Homo sapiens: one gene and its partners. The protein of the gene in region 4 purifies or fractionates together with the protein of the main gene of each other region. This does not show direct contact. Each region holds a gene or a part of one and is shown on either strand. Other genes may lie near its edges.

What was found. The genes of interacting proteins can lie anywhere in the genome.
Region 1: the proteins of LCN8 (region 4) and GFM2 purify together in Homo sapiens (affinity purification with mass spectrometry; one large-scale study listed by BioGRID and IntAct). This does not show direct contact.
Region 2: the proteins of LCN8 (region 4) and FAHD2A purify together in Homo sapiens (affinity purification with mass spectrometry; one large-scale study listed by BioGRID and IntAct). This does not show direct contact.
Region 3: the proteins of LCN8 (region 4) and LRRC41 purify together in Homo sapiens (affinity purification with mass spectrometry; one large-scale study listed by BioGRID and IntAct). This does not show direct contact.

Annotation. Positions count from the first base shown.
Region 1 is NC_000005.10:74,722,118-74,725,617, forward strand, and holds part of GFM2 (ribosome-releasing factor 2, mitochondrial), read right to left. Parts: intron 445-3,500; coding exon 262-444; intron 1-261.
Region 2 is NC_000002.12:95,414,912-95,417,116, forward strand, and holds the end of FAHD2A (oxaloacetate tautomerase FAHD2A, mitochondrial), read left to right. Parts: 3' UTR 1-1,705; downstream 1,706-2,205. UniProt on the Homo sapiens protein: Tautomerase that converts enol-oxaloacetate, a strong inhibitor of succinate dehydrogenase, to the physiological keto form of oxaloacetate. It is thereby required to maximize aerobic respiration efficiency by preventing succinate dehydrogenase inhibition.
Region 3 is NC_000001.11:46,279,617-46,283,116, forward strand, and holds part of LRRC41 (leucine-rich repeat-containing protein 41), read right to left. Parts: intron 1,770-3,500; coding exon 1,509-1,769; intron 945-1,508; coding exon 780-944; intron 675-779; coding exon 576-674; intron 1-575. UniProt on the Homo sapiens protein: Probable substrate recognition component of an ECS (Elongin BC-CUL2/5-SOCS-box protein) E3 ubiquitin ligase complex which mediates the ubiquitination and subsequent proteasomal degradation of target proteins.
Region 4 is NC_000009.12:136,755,444-136,759,554, forward strand, and holds the start of LCN8 (epididymal-specific lipocalin-8), read right to left. Parts: upstream 2,801-4,111; 5' UTR 2,488-2,800; coding exon 2,464-2,487; intron 1,726-2,463; coding exon 1,595-1,725; intron 1,150-1,594; coding exon 1,079-1,149; intron 1,010-1,078; exon of another isoform or gene 74-1,009; coding exon 1-73. UniProt on the Homo sapiens protein: May play a role in male fertility. May act as a retinoid carrier protein within the epididymis.

The sequences.
Region 1 (3,500 bases), on a different chromosome or scaffold from region 4:
TTGGCAGGGAAAAAATGGTCATATAGGCTGGTACCACATTTTGGGACTGTAAATACCCCCTTGTAGTGCTATAATCCCTGGATTTCGCCAACAATTTAAATTCAAAGTCCTAACCATTCCTGCTGGTTGAAACGAAACTTAACATGTATTCTCTAAATCAAAGCCTTAATGTTTCTTTCAGGTTACTGATTGTCTATTCATTGGCATATAATATCCCCTGAATTAAGAAGAATATGTACTTTTCAGTTACAAAGTACCTACCATAATTTCTGCTAAGGGAACAAATCCAATAACAACTTTGTTGTCCTGGCGAGTCTGAATTTCCTGAATGTTTCCTCTTCTTTGTGCCAGATCTGCCAGGACAGGGCTGAGATAATCTCTAGCTACTGTAACCTCAAGATTCATCAGAGGCTCCAAAACTTGCTTATCAGCTTTCTTCAGAGCCTAAAGAAATTAAAGAATGTTAACTTATCTTTCATAAATAAAAACTTAAAATAAATACAGCCTAGAGCTCATACAAAAAGACATAAGCTTGCTTTAACTCTCTCTTTAAAGATAACGTTTTATAAGATGGCAACAACTATAATATTTGCTTGTATAATAAGCATGATAACAGAATTTATAGATCTTTTGTATGGTATGATGCAAGGGGATGTTTATAAAAAATGCCTGTGAACATGTGGTCAGAGTCACAGAAAGTCCTCCCCTTTCAAAGATTCATTTGTTCATATTTAAACCTCATGTTTCTGTTCCTGATGTCTATAATTACAGTCCATGCCATGCCACATGCCAGAGACAGCAATAAAGGGGAGAGCTTAAAAAAAAGGAAAAATTTAGTGCAATAAGGTAGTAGAAACATTATGTAAAATCTTTTCTTATTTAGAATCTTAGATTTCAAAGGCCAAGAAGAACATGCATAAAGAATGTGGAAACTGAAAATGTCTTTCAGAATAAAATAATGGAATTGAAAAGGATGTAAAAATTAAGAGAAAAAAATCCTAAAAAAGATTGAATTCTGCATATCTAACTAGGGCATACCATGCTCACAGAACTGTTCTTAGTCCTCTTTTCACAATCTTTTCCTGTCAATATTACCTATCTGGAGAGCTTCAAAAACGACTTCAACATGGCTTCCTCAAAAACGTTAAATCCTATGCAGCCCATAGTTTGAGTGCTCCAGTCCTGTACTCCATTGGCCTGCTTTGGGATAGTGTCTGAATATCCGGCAGCTCTCCAACATGTCCCACACTGAGCTCATCATTTTCTTCTCCAAACACTTCTATGCACATCCCTTTTTCTGATGATGACATCAGTAGTCTTCAGTTCACCTTTGACTTCCTTTTCCCCAAGTAAGCTGTAAGATTTTTTTTGTTTTTCCCATTCCTATTGCTGGCATCCTAGGTCAAACTTAGTCCATTTCCTGTCCTCTACTATCTCTTCCCTATTCAAATCCCTTCTGTACTTTGATACTTCTCTCTTCGAAACCTTTAAATTATGCTCCACCATTCTCAGAACAAAGTTCAAACTCTTTAATGTAGTTTTTAAAGTTTTCTCTACAGTCTGAAACCATTTTACTTTTTCAACACACAACTCCCCTGCCTTCATCTGGTACTACAGTTAAAAGGACTCTTATCTGTGTCTGGAATGTCCCCCACCATGCTCACGTCCTCCAAAATCATCTCAGCTCAAATATAAATCTTTCCAAGAATCCTCCCCAATTCCCTGCTTCCTACTACTTTCATGGCATTCACCCATTTTATCTAATACTTTGGCTATATTTAATTCCCTTATGAAATCACAAGCTCCTTTAGGTAGAGTAAAATATAATCCTATTTGTGTCCTTCTCAGTGCCTGGTGAACTATAAGCACAACACAGATGACTCAATAAATACATGAAGCACTTACAAGCAGAGAGAAGGAGATTCCCCATTAGAAGAAGCTTAACAAGGGTAGCAGTACTTCCATTAGGAGTGTTTTGTTTGAAGTAACGAATTAACACTAATGACTAAATGTAAGCCCCCATAAAGTTAATTCTTGTTCTCTGGCATAATCTTATTAAAAAGGCAAATGAACATGGAAATGCAGACTTTATTTTTAGAAGGCATATTACATTTTGAAGGACAGGCCAATATATTGAGGGCTTGGGGTCAATTTAGAAACTGCATTATTTTTCAGATTACCTTAGTTTCAATATTAAAACCAATTTCCAGAGAAACTTTAAAAATTACTTGGGGATGGGCATGGTGGCTTACACCTGTAATCCTAGCACTTTGGGTTTGGGAGGCCGAGGTTGGCAGACTGCTTGAGCCCAGGAGTTCAAGACCAGCCTGGGCAACATAGTGAGACCTTGTCTCTTAAAAAAAAAAAAAAAACAATTTAAAAATTACTTGAGGGTGAATTTTCTCAACAATATCGTCATAACTACTTTGCAGGTAACATTTCCAACATACTCTTAGGTGAACAATATTTAAACTTTTTTCAAAGCTTTGTTTTTAATCAAAAAGCTTTTTAAGAAGTATAAATTTAAACTCATGTCGAAGAGATATCAAGTTTGGCTTTCTTAGGTTAGGGGTTTGGAATACTTAAATTAACTTTGTAATTTCGGATTCAAATAAAACTACAGAAAATTGGGTCTCAAACACAGTCCAAGTATTAAAAAATGGCTATAAAACCAAGTATAAATAATGCAAAAGCAATCACCTAAGAAATTAGGGTAGTTCAATGCTGAGAAGAATGCATGGAATCAGCATTCAGCATACCACACTCCTGGGAGTTAATCCAGTTCTGGTAGGTTCATGAGGCAGGAAGCGGAGGGTCCACGACACTTAAGGACAAACTCCCCAGATAACCACACCAAGAAGACCCATTGCTTGATGCTTTGAGAAGAGAAGGTGCTTAGCCTGAATCTGTTATTCAGTGGGACTTAACTGGTTTCAATGGTCCTTGATTAAAGCAATCTTTATAATTTAATATAAGTAGAGAAATATATGGAACTCTATAAGAATTTGCATGTCATCCTTGTGCAGGGCCATGCTAATCTTCTCTGTATCGTTCCAATTTTAGTATATGTGCTGCTGAAGCAAGCACTAAAGCAATCTTATTTGAATAACAATCTCCAAAACTGGAACCAATATTGGATCTTCAGTGTTCTTTAGATTACAGTCCATTTTGGGCCAAGCTAACCTCAAATCTGGCTTCTACTCAAACCTACCATGCTTGCCTCTAATAGCTGTCTGTCAGGGATGGGGAAAGCAGAAATGTCACTTAAGGAAGCTTGCCTCTTTATCAGAGTATATTCCAATAGCAATCCATGTTACATAGTAATTTCTAAGATCCTCTTTGAAATAAAAACCTGGTGATTAAGAAATCAGAGATTCTCCATGATAAGAACTCTTGTTGACCACAAGGCTGAGGAGGCAAAGACACAAGATAAGGCTCTGTAAACACAGCTGTCTGCAAGATCAGTGGTACTATACTCAGAAGAGTCACCTTAAAGCCAT
Region 2 (2,205 bases), on a different chromosome or scaffold from region 4:
AAAACAAAAAACAAAACCAATAACTCAGTAAGCAGATTAAACAAAGGTAGAGACGGAGCCCTCCACCCCTCTCACACACTCATCCTCACACCCAGCTATACCACACCCCACAAATGTTGCTTATGTTTCCTTGGTCATTCTGTCCATCCTCCTGTCTGTCCAAAGCCAAGGACACTGCTCTACTCTAAATTTTTTGTCCCGAAGCCCCCAAATACTGCAACCCTGACCCAATGCACGAAGCCACCCCAAAATACAGCAGAGGACACCAGGACTTTCATTTTCCCTCAGTATGGCCCATCCTTTGGGTATGCCAACTCCATGTCCACCAAGCACTGCATGTAGGACAGGGCACAGTTTGGAGGCCTTGGTCCAGCCACTGCCCCAGACCCACCTTGGCTCTCTCCTCACTAACACCCGAGAAGCCCAGACTTCCCAGTGTTTAGCAACAGATTAAACTCTAAGCCAACAACAACAGAACAGGGTGGAGTGAGTGGAAAGCAAATGAAATGTTAAAAAAAAAAAAAAAGCAATACTTGCATTCTCATTAGTAGGAACATGTGAGATGAAGCATGTTATGTTATTAGGCATTCTCTTGATTCGGTAAACACAAGCTGAATAAATTTATAAATATCAGCATTAAGCGAGATTTAACGGGGAGCTGTTTATCTTCTGCCTGTCAGGCAGGCGGCAACACTCTCCATGTATCACTCGCCAGCCGTGCAGTCCTCACTCTCTTGCCCAGGTAAGCTGGGGAAGAGCCTGCTGCCGCCCAGCTCTGGTTGTGGAAGGGCTGGCACCAAGGAGCTGCGAGCTTACCTCAACTCATCTCACCTCACCATGCCGGCTGCGAGGCGGCCCGTGCAGTCCGTGCGCAGGAGGTCACACTCCCATGCTGCATCCCAGCCCCTCCAGAAGCAGAGCATGACCTGGGTGACTTTGAGGATGCTATTTAACCTCTCTAAGCTAAAGCTCCTCGACTGCAGCATCAACAGATCAGTGCCGACCTGTTAAGGCCGTCGAGAGCATCAAATGCTACTGTTCAGCAGGTGCCTGACACATAGTAGGTCCACAAGCAAATGATTTTCCTGCTTGCATCATTTCTAGCACAGAGCTGGAGGAAATGGCGAGGTGCAGGTGGCCGCTGGGCCCTGCTGTTCTACATGGGAGCAAGACAGCTGCTAGGTGAAGGGGAATGACCAGGCAGCCACAGGGAGGACATGTGGCCTCAGGAAGCCTGGGTGTGTATCCTGGTTCTGCTAGGAACACGTGTGGGGCTTTGTGTGGGTGACTCTCTGGCTCCCCAAGCCTCCCTTTCCTACTGTTATATCCTTAAAGTGCCTCTGAGGCCAAAGCCTTTGTGGCAATTGTCAAATGAGTCCATATGCAGTGAGTACCGTGTTGAGGGAGGACAAGGTCACCAAGAGCTGAGAATGTTTCTCCGACTGATGAGACCTAGATATTGGGTACATGGAGGTCCCCGGTCCCTTTGTGATTCCTGCAGCCTGTTGCCTCCTTGCCTGGACCCCGCCTCAGCTCAGAAAGCCAATTCCCTAGATTCCAAAGGCCTTCCCAGACCAATTAGCATGTCCTGCAGCTGTCAGCTCCCTGTGCCTAGCCTGGACCTCAGCTCATGTCTAGCACCCAGTCTCCCAACCCCACACATATTCACAAATAAAAGAAAATAACAAATGACATGAATTCTTCACTCCTGGTCTGGCTTGCTGTGTGTAAACTGCTATGACAATACAAGACGCAGAGGCGGGTACCCAATAAAAGCTGTTGAAAATGTGACTGACACCGAGTTTCAGCTATCCAGGAAGGCACGGATCCTTACAAGGTCCAAGCAGAGTCCTCGAGAATAGTTGAGAATTCTTGGGTTCCATATGAACTAGGAGATACCCACACAAAGGCTTGGATTTCCCAATACATAACTACCCCTGAACACTCCTTCTTTCCCTCGTCTCTCTGCTGAGACCTCTAGACCCTAAGGATCCACCCAGGACAACCTCTCCAAAGGTACCCTGATATGCTTTTCTTCCAGGCAGCATTTCCACAGAGCTGTGGGTGAAAGTCACAGGATGAAAATGTGCCATGGGACTGTATCTCCCACCAACACACTGCAGGCAAGGGGCACACAGAGTGCCCCCTCTGCCCATCCCAGGAATGGCCATCTAAGAATGATGCAATCTTTTCTAAAAAGAAAGT
Region 3 (3,500 bases), on a different chromosome or scaffold from region 4:
GTCAAGAAAAATTATAGTAAATTCTGATGGCTGCATTAGGACTGGTGCTGCCCCTCCTGCCCCAGTTGGCCCTAGCAAGGGGTATTAACATTATAGAGGCCCAAAAAGAGGAAGGAATTTGTCTAGACTCCAAGCAAGGCTGGAACTAAATCAGAATCCAAACTAAAGACTGAACCTAAATGTTCCCTATAAGAAGGTTCTCTGCATGGACAATTCTCCATTCACTTCCTTCTTTCCCTAACACTGGCCACCCTCTATGCGGGGGTGGGGATCAGAGAAAAGTCTATGAGGGGAGCCTGGCACAGTACATTTATTTTGCCCCACCACCACCATTTTGTCCACCTCTGAAAGGTAAGAGCAACTTTTGGGTGAAGCACTCTAAAAGAGCGATTTCTCATGTTTAGTAGAGGAGGAATTGAGGTTGGGGCTTTTAGAAGGAAAATCATGCAGGTTCTATATCCATTTTATAGCTGAGGACACAAGGCCAAGAAAGGAACAGTGGTTTGCTCACTCAGATTATGGCAGAACCATAGTGAAGACCCAGGAAATGTCCAGGTTCTGAATAAGGAACTTACCTTGCAGAGTCAGATTCTGTAGCAAAAAGAGCACCTCGCTCTGACAGTCAGCGAGATTCATGTCATGGAAGCTCAGTCTTTTCAGGGCTAGGTTGTACTCTGGATAGGAGGCAGAGACCATGGACCATGGACCTTAGCTTTCCTAGAGAACAGTGCTAGGTCCCCACCTACTCCTCTCCCTTCACCATTCTGGCTGGGTCCTACCTTTGAGTGTTTGCAAAACAAGCCCAAAATCCTGGGGAGAGGCAAAGGTGGCACTATCCAGGGACAGCTGCTGCAGAGAACCCGAGGCCTTCAGAACGGAGCACAGCAGTGGGGCTGGCTGGGCTCCCCGTGGAAATCCCATCTCCAACTGCTCCAGGCAGTTTTCTGGATATGGTGGGGAAAGAAGATTCCAGCTGGCCATCTCTACCTCACTCCCATAGCAGGTCCCATCCTGTTCTTAAGGGATTCATCTAAAAAATTATTTATTCATTCACTTGTCGTTGAGTGCCTACCATATGTCAGCACTGTGCTAGATTCTAGGAATTGAGCACTAAATATGAGATTTAGTCCTTGCCCTTGTAGAAATTTTAGACCAGGAAGACAGGCTACCCAGACACAAGCAAATAAAGTATGCAGAGTGGTGGGATAGGAGACATACAAGAACTAAGGGAACATACAGCAGGGGAACTAATCCAGTCTAAAGATCAGTTCTTTTCCTTTTCTGGAGACCAAGCTGCCTTGGTCACTCTCTGCTGGTCTTATGGTGGTTTAGGCCCTGTCTAGCTCAAGAGTATCTTAGTGGTAGGCTCTAAAGGGGGGATAGGTTCCAGATAAGCCAGGAATGAGTGATAGAAGAGGTCCTTCCCCTTTCCCCATACGAATGCATCTGCACCTTTGTGTGGGGATACACGTGCGTGCACACACACAAACACACACACAGTGCTTCACCTGGTATCTCCTCATCGCCTATTATGTGGCTAGGGGGCCCTGCATTCCCTGGCACACCAGGGTTGTCCCGCTGGCTTGGGTGGTCAACACGAATAGAGAGGACCCGTAGCAGGGGCAGTGCTCGCACGATAGCACGTGTCAGCTCCAGGATGGGCAGTGGTGAGAACAGGTCACTGAGATGCAGGGCACGGAGGCGACATCCAGCCTGGCCTGACAGGGCCCGCAGGCTGTCTAGCAGGCGGAAGATGTTAGAGCCCAGGCCTATGGCAAGAAAGAGATTAAGTCAGAACCATGTGGGAGTGTCAGCAGGGGTAATATATTCAAATACAACTCCAAATACTTTTGGTTACTAGCAAATCTCTTGGGCTTTGGCTCAGCTTATTTAAACCCATTTGTCTTAACTACTCATCCATGTCTTGCTTTTTCCTTAGGTAACCAGCAAACTGAGGTCTGCTGTTTTGGGTTATGCCCACAAGAAGCACCAGTCAGGGCAGAGTCACAAAATTGAGAAGATACAATATGGTGAGGCAGCATGTGGCTACTAGCTGAATGACAGGCACAGACAGTAGCAGTTCTCTGGATTTCTGGGTTCTGAGTAGTTTTCTGAAGAAACTGGCCTTGAAGGAAGGAAGTTTTGGATAGAGGGAGAAGACATAGTCAAGAGTCCCAGCTAGCCGGGAGCGGTGGCTCACGCCTGTAATCCCAGCACTTTGGGAGGCCAAGGTGGGCAGATCACTTGAGGCCAGGAGTTCCAGACCAGCCTGGCCAACATGGTGAAACCCTGTCTCTACTAAAAATACAGAAATTAGCTGGGCTGGGTGGCACATGCCTGTAGTCCCAGCTACTCGGGAGGCTGAGGCAGGAGAATCACTTGAACCCAGGAGACGGAGGTTGCAGTGAGCTGAGATCACGCCACTGCACTCCGGCTTAGGTGAAAAAGCAAGACTGTCTCAAAAAAAAAAAAAAAATCACAGCTAGGAGAGTGCAAGGCATGAATGAGACGCTTGCTTGTTTGGCTACATGAGGCTCAGGAAACAGCTCTAGAGGGCAGGGCACTGGAGGCCACATTATGGAAAGGCAAAGGGATGGTTTAACCTAGACGCAATAGGGAGCACCTAAAAACTATGGAGAGTGACAGTGACCCAACTGGGATACTTAAAAGAATCAATGGGTGGGAATGGGGCAGGAAAAGATAACCAAATCCCACAGCATGGACTAGGATCCAGGAAGGTTGGTTGCTTAATGCCACAGGCAAATAATTCCTTGGACTATGCAGGCTCCTGTTCATTCATTCAACTACCCAGTGCCTACTAAATATCAAGTTTTTTGCTAGACACTAGTGAGCAGCACATTGCTTTTTTTTCTTACATAGCTTGATAATGCGATGGGAACTGGGGGAATAAAGTACTATGAAATTACAAAGGATGAGTACCTAGTCCAGCTTACATCAGTAAAGGCACTCCAGCTAAGTCCTAAAGAACATAAAGGGGACAGGCTAAAATTTAGGAAGAATGATTGTGGCAGAGGCAACTTGGCATATGTAGAGGCCTGAAGGAGAACAAAAAAATTTCATAATGGCTGGTGTGAGAGTGTGAAGGGGGGAAGCATTCAAGATACAACTATAGGCCAGGTGTGGTGGCTCACACCTATATAATCCCAGCACTTTGGGAGGCTGAGGTAGGCAGATCACCTGAGGTCGGGAGCCCAAGACCAGCCTGGCCAACATAGTGAAACCCCGTCTCTACTAAAAATACAAAAATTAGCTGGGCATGGTGGCATGTGCCTGTAATCCCAGCTACTGAGTCAGTAGAATTGCTTGGACCCGAGAGGCGGAGGTTGCAGTAAGCCAAGATTGCACCATTGCACTCCAGCCTGGGTGACAACAGAGACTCCCTGTCAAAAAAAAAAAAAAAAAAGATACAACTATAGAGATAACCAGGAGTAAGAATATGAATGACCACTAAGTAAAATTAAGCCATTGAAGGGTGTTTG
Region 4 (4,111 bases):
CGCCACATCAGGGACACCCGCAGGATGGCGTAGCCCTCGTAGTCGGTGTCCAGCACGTGGATCTCTCTGTGGCCTTCAAGAGCCGGCCATGGCGTTGGGGGAGACGTCTGAGGGGGACGGACCTCGAAGGCCAGGGTCTGCAGGGTCTAACTCCATCCTGCCCCCACCCAGTCCCAGCACTTGAGTGGTTGGAGACACTACAGAAGCTTTTGAAGGATGATCCAGTGTGTTGGTGGGAGAATGGGAAGGTCTGGGGCATGAAATGTGCAGGGAACAGCATGGGGAACAGTGCAGGGAACCCTGCAGGGAACAGCATGGGGAACGGTGCAGGAAACAGCATGGGGAACAGTGCAGGGAACAGCATGGGGAACAGTGCAGGGAACAGTGCAGGGAATGCATGGGGAACGGCACAGAGAAAAGTGCAGGGAACAGCATGGGGAATAGTGCAGGGAGCAGTGCGGGGAACAGTGCAGGGAGCATTGCAGGGAACAGCATGGGGAACAGTGCAGGGAACAGTGCAGGGAATGCATGGGGAACGGCACAGAGAAAAGTGCAGGGAACAGCATGGGGAATAGTGCAGGAAACAGCATGGGGAACAGTGCAGGGAGCAGTGCGGGGAACAGTGCAGGGAGCATTGCAGGGAACAGCATGGGGAACAGTGCAGGGAACAGCATGGGGAACAGCGCAGGGAACAGCATGTGGAACAGCGCAGGGAACAGCATGAGGAACAGTGCAGGGAACAGCATGGGGAACAGCGCAGGGAACAGCATGGGGAACAGTGCAGGGAACAGTGCAGGGAACGCATGGGGAATGGCGCAGAGAAAAGTGCAGGGAACAGCATGGGGAATAGTGCAGGAAACAGCATGTGGAACAGTGCAGGGAGCAGTGCAGGGAACAACATGGGGAACAGCACAGGGAATAGTTCAGGGAACAGCATGGGGAACAGTGCAGGGAACAGCACAGAGAACAGTGCAGGGAACAGCATGGGGAACAGTGCAGGGAACAGCATGGGGAACAATAAGGCCTAGCTGTGTGCACAGCCGGGTTCCACCTGCCATCACAGGGCAACTGCACTTACCAGGAAAAGCGAATTTTCCCGTACTGTCTATTTCTGAGCCCACGATCTTCTCTATCTCACAGCTTCCTGAGCTGAAAGGCAGCAAAGTGCCCATCGGTAAAATGCTAGCCTGTGTCCCGCCTGCTGGGCTCCTTCCCGGAGTGGGGCTGTGTCTTTAGGAAGGGCACAGGCAGCACTGTGGAGTATCCCAGGCCTGGAGCAGGATGAGGCGGGGAATGTGCCAGGTGGGGCCTTCCCCTGGGGATTCTGTTCCCTCCAGCCAGTCACCTGTCCCACACCCCTTTTCCTTCCTTCTAAGTTCACGGGGCTTCATTAAAACACTATGCTTATATTTGGGATAAAATGCAGATCCAGGAGCCTGGGGGTCGAGGGCTCAGGCAGACGGGCACCGGGAGTGCTGGCCCACCAGCGGGACGGCACTCAGCCCAGACCCCACGCTGCAGCGGGTGCAGCAACCCACGCCCAGTCCCCGGCCATGCATGCCTCTTCCTCTCCAGCAGCCCCCAGGCCTCTTACCTGTTATATGCAACCTTCACGGTCAGGTTACTCCCGCTCAAGGTGAGGAACAAGCCCTCCACCCGCTTCGGGGCCGTCAGCACCAGGCTTTGATCGGAGGCCACACCGACTTCCCTCCAGAATCCTCCAATCTAGAGAGATACGGAGCCTGGCCAAGAGCTGAGCAGTGGGTCTGAGACCCCCAGGGGCATTCCACGAACCCCCGGGCAGGGGCCTGCTGGGCTCTGAGAGGTCAGCAGATGGCTGTGAGGCTCGGTGGCAAAGCAGCAAGACATCTGTGAGCCCACTGTCCCCAGGCATGTGTCCCTCCAAGCGGTGCCTTCAGGCCATCAGACAGCAATGCCCACAGGGCAGCCCCTCCCCACTGGGCCATCTAGAGCTGCGGAACAGTCCCTAGGGCTTCTGCGACATGTCGGGAGGAACCACAGGCCCTGCCTGACCTCGGAGGCAGGACCCAGGAGCAGAGGCCTGGAAAAGAAAGCCCGCAGGGCGCGGCGGAGTGAGAAACGCCAGAGAACAGGTGGCTCGGGTAGCGCAGCTCGCCAGCCTGCCAACCACGCCAGAGGATGGGCCTCCTGCCCTCAGCAACCCGCCCAGAGCCGGGACTTCCGCTGAGACTTTTAAAAACCCTACCATTTTCGGGAGGAAAGAATCTTCGTCTCCGGCATCTACCTTCTCTGGGCCTGCTAATGTGCCTCTGGCCCAGCAGCCGGCACAGACTCAGCGGAGAAGAAAATGCCGCTAACAGGAAGTGTCTAGCCGGGCACCAGCGTCCCCACGAGCTCCCCACACCGGGAGAGGCCTCCTTCCCTGAGCCTGAGGGGTTGGGGGTGTAGGAGGAGCCCCACCAACTAAGAAGGAGAAGCCACCTTCTGCCGGTCCAGCTCCTCCATGGCTGCTGCCACCTGCGCCCGGAGCACCACGAGGACACCCAGGATGGTGCACGGCAGCCTGGCCTCCGTGGCGGGGTCCGGGCTCCGGGTTCCCCTGCTGCACAGCCTGGGCCGATTCTATACGGACAGTGCAGGCTTGTGCGCCCACCCGGGAATGTCATCAGGACAGCTTGGCTGCTGGCAGCTCAGAGACGTGGGTTTCTGCACAAGCGCCATCGGCCCTGGTGACACCCACGCCCACCGCAGGGGTTAGCCTGGCCTAGACAGCAGCCTGCCCAGCCACCCTCCTGGCATATGGACAGCGGTGGACGCTGCTGGGGCCGTCTCGGAGCCTGAGAGGAAGAGGAGCTCCACCCACACCACCTGGGGCTCGGTGACCCCCACCCCACATGACACTTGTTTTTTTGGGCTCGTTCTGGCCTGCGCTGCGAGGGCTGTGGGCACTGATGGGCAACGGACCAGAGCCTCCAGCACTTTCCTGTGCCACCCCACGCCTGGCCCTTTGAAATGTGTGCCAGACGCAGTGGGCAGTCAGAGCTCCGGAGGCCGGAGGCACAGCGCCAGCGACCAGAGTGACAGTGACAGTGGGGAGGGCCTCTGCTGCACCAGGCATCACCACCCGGGGGCAGTGTGGAGCCCGGCCCTGGAGCCTGATCACCCAGGCTTGCAGCCCGCCTGGCCTCTTCCTGGCTGTGCAGCCTTGGATAAGTTACCCAACCCTTCTGTGCCTCGGTTTCTTGATTTTTTTTTTCTTTTTTTTTTTTTCCTGAGACAGAGTCTTGCTCCATCGCCCAGGCTGGAGTGCAGTGGCACAATCTCAGCTCACTGCAGCCTCTGCCTCCTGGGTTCAAGCGATTCTCCTGCCTCAGCCTCCTGAGTAGCTGGGACTACAGGTGTGCGCCACCACGCCCGGTTAAGTCTTGTATTTTTAGTAGGGACGGGGTTTTGCCATGTTGGCCAGGCTGGTCTCAAACTCCTGGCCTCAAGTGATCCACCCGCCTCGGCCTCCCAAAGTGCTGGGATTACAGGCATGAGCCACCGCGCCAGGCCAGTTTCCTGATCTTTGAAATGAGGAGTACGCTGGGTAGCTACCTATGTCTGTGGGTCTGCTGTGGAGCGCTCAGGCTGGCTGGCAGTCCCCTGGCCACAACGGTGACCCATTTCCAGGGGTGTAAACCAGGTGCCCACGATCATATCAGTGGTGAGGGGCAAAACCCAAGTGGGCCTAACTCCCCGGCCTCCTGCAGCTCCCCCAGCTCCCCCCCCGGCACCGGGGCCTGTGTGCCCAGCACAGCCCCAGTGGCCGGGCCGTCTTCACAGGGTGCCCAGTTCCCCACAGCACTGCAGACCCATAGGGACTGGGCCAGGATGCTCCATTCTTCCTGTGGGTGCAGCCCCCACACAGGCCAAGAGTGGCTGCTGCCTCCTGCCCCTCCCCAGGGCCCCTCACCCCTGTCCCCTGCCCCCTCACCCAGGGCCCTTCACCCCTGCCCCCTGCCCCTTCCCAGGGCCCCTCACCCCTGCCCCCTGCCCCTCCCCAGGGCCTCTCACCCCTGCCTCCTGCCCTCTCACCCCTGCGTCCTGCTCCCTCGGCCAGGGCCTTCTCACACTTGCCTCCCTGCCT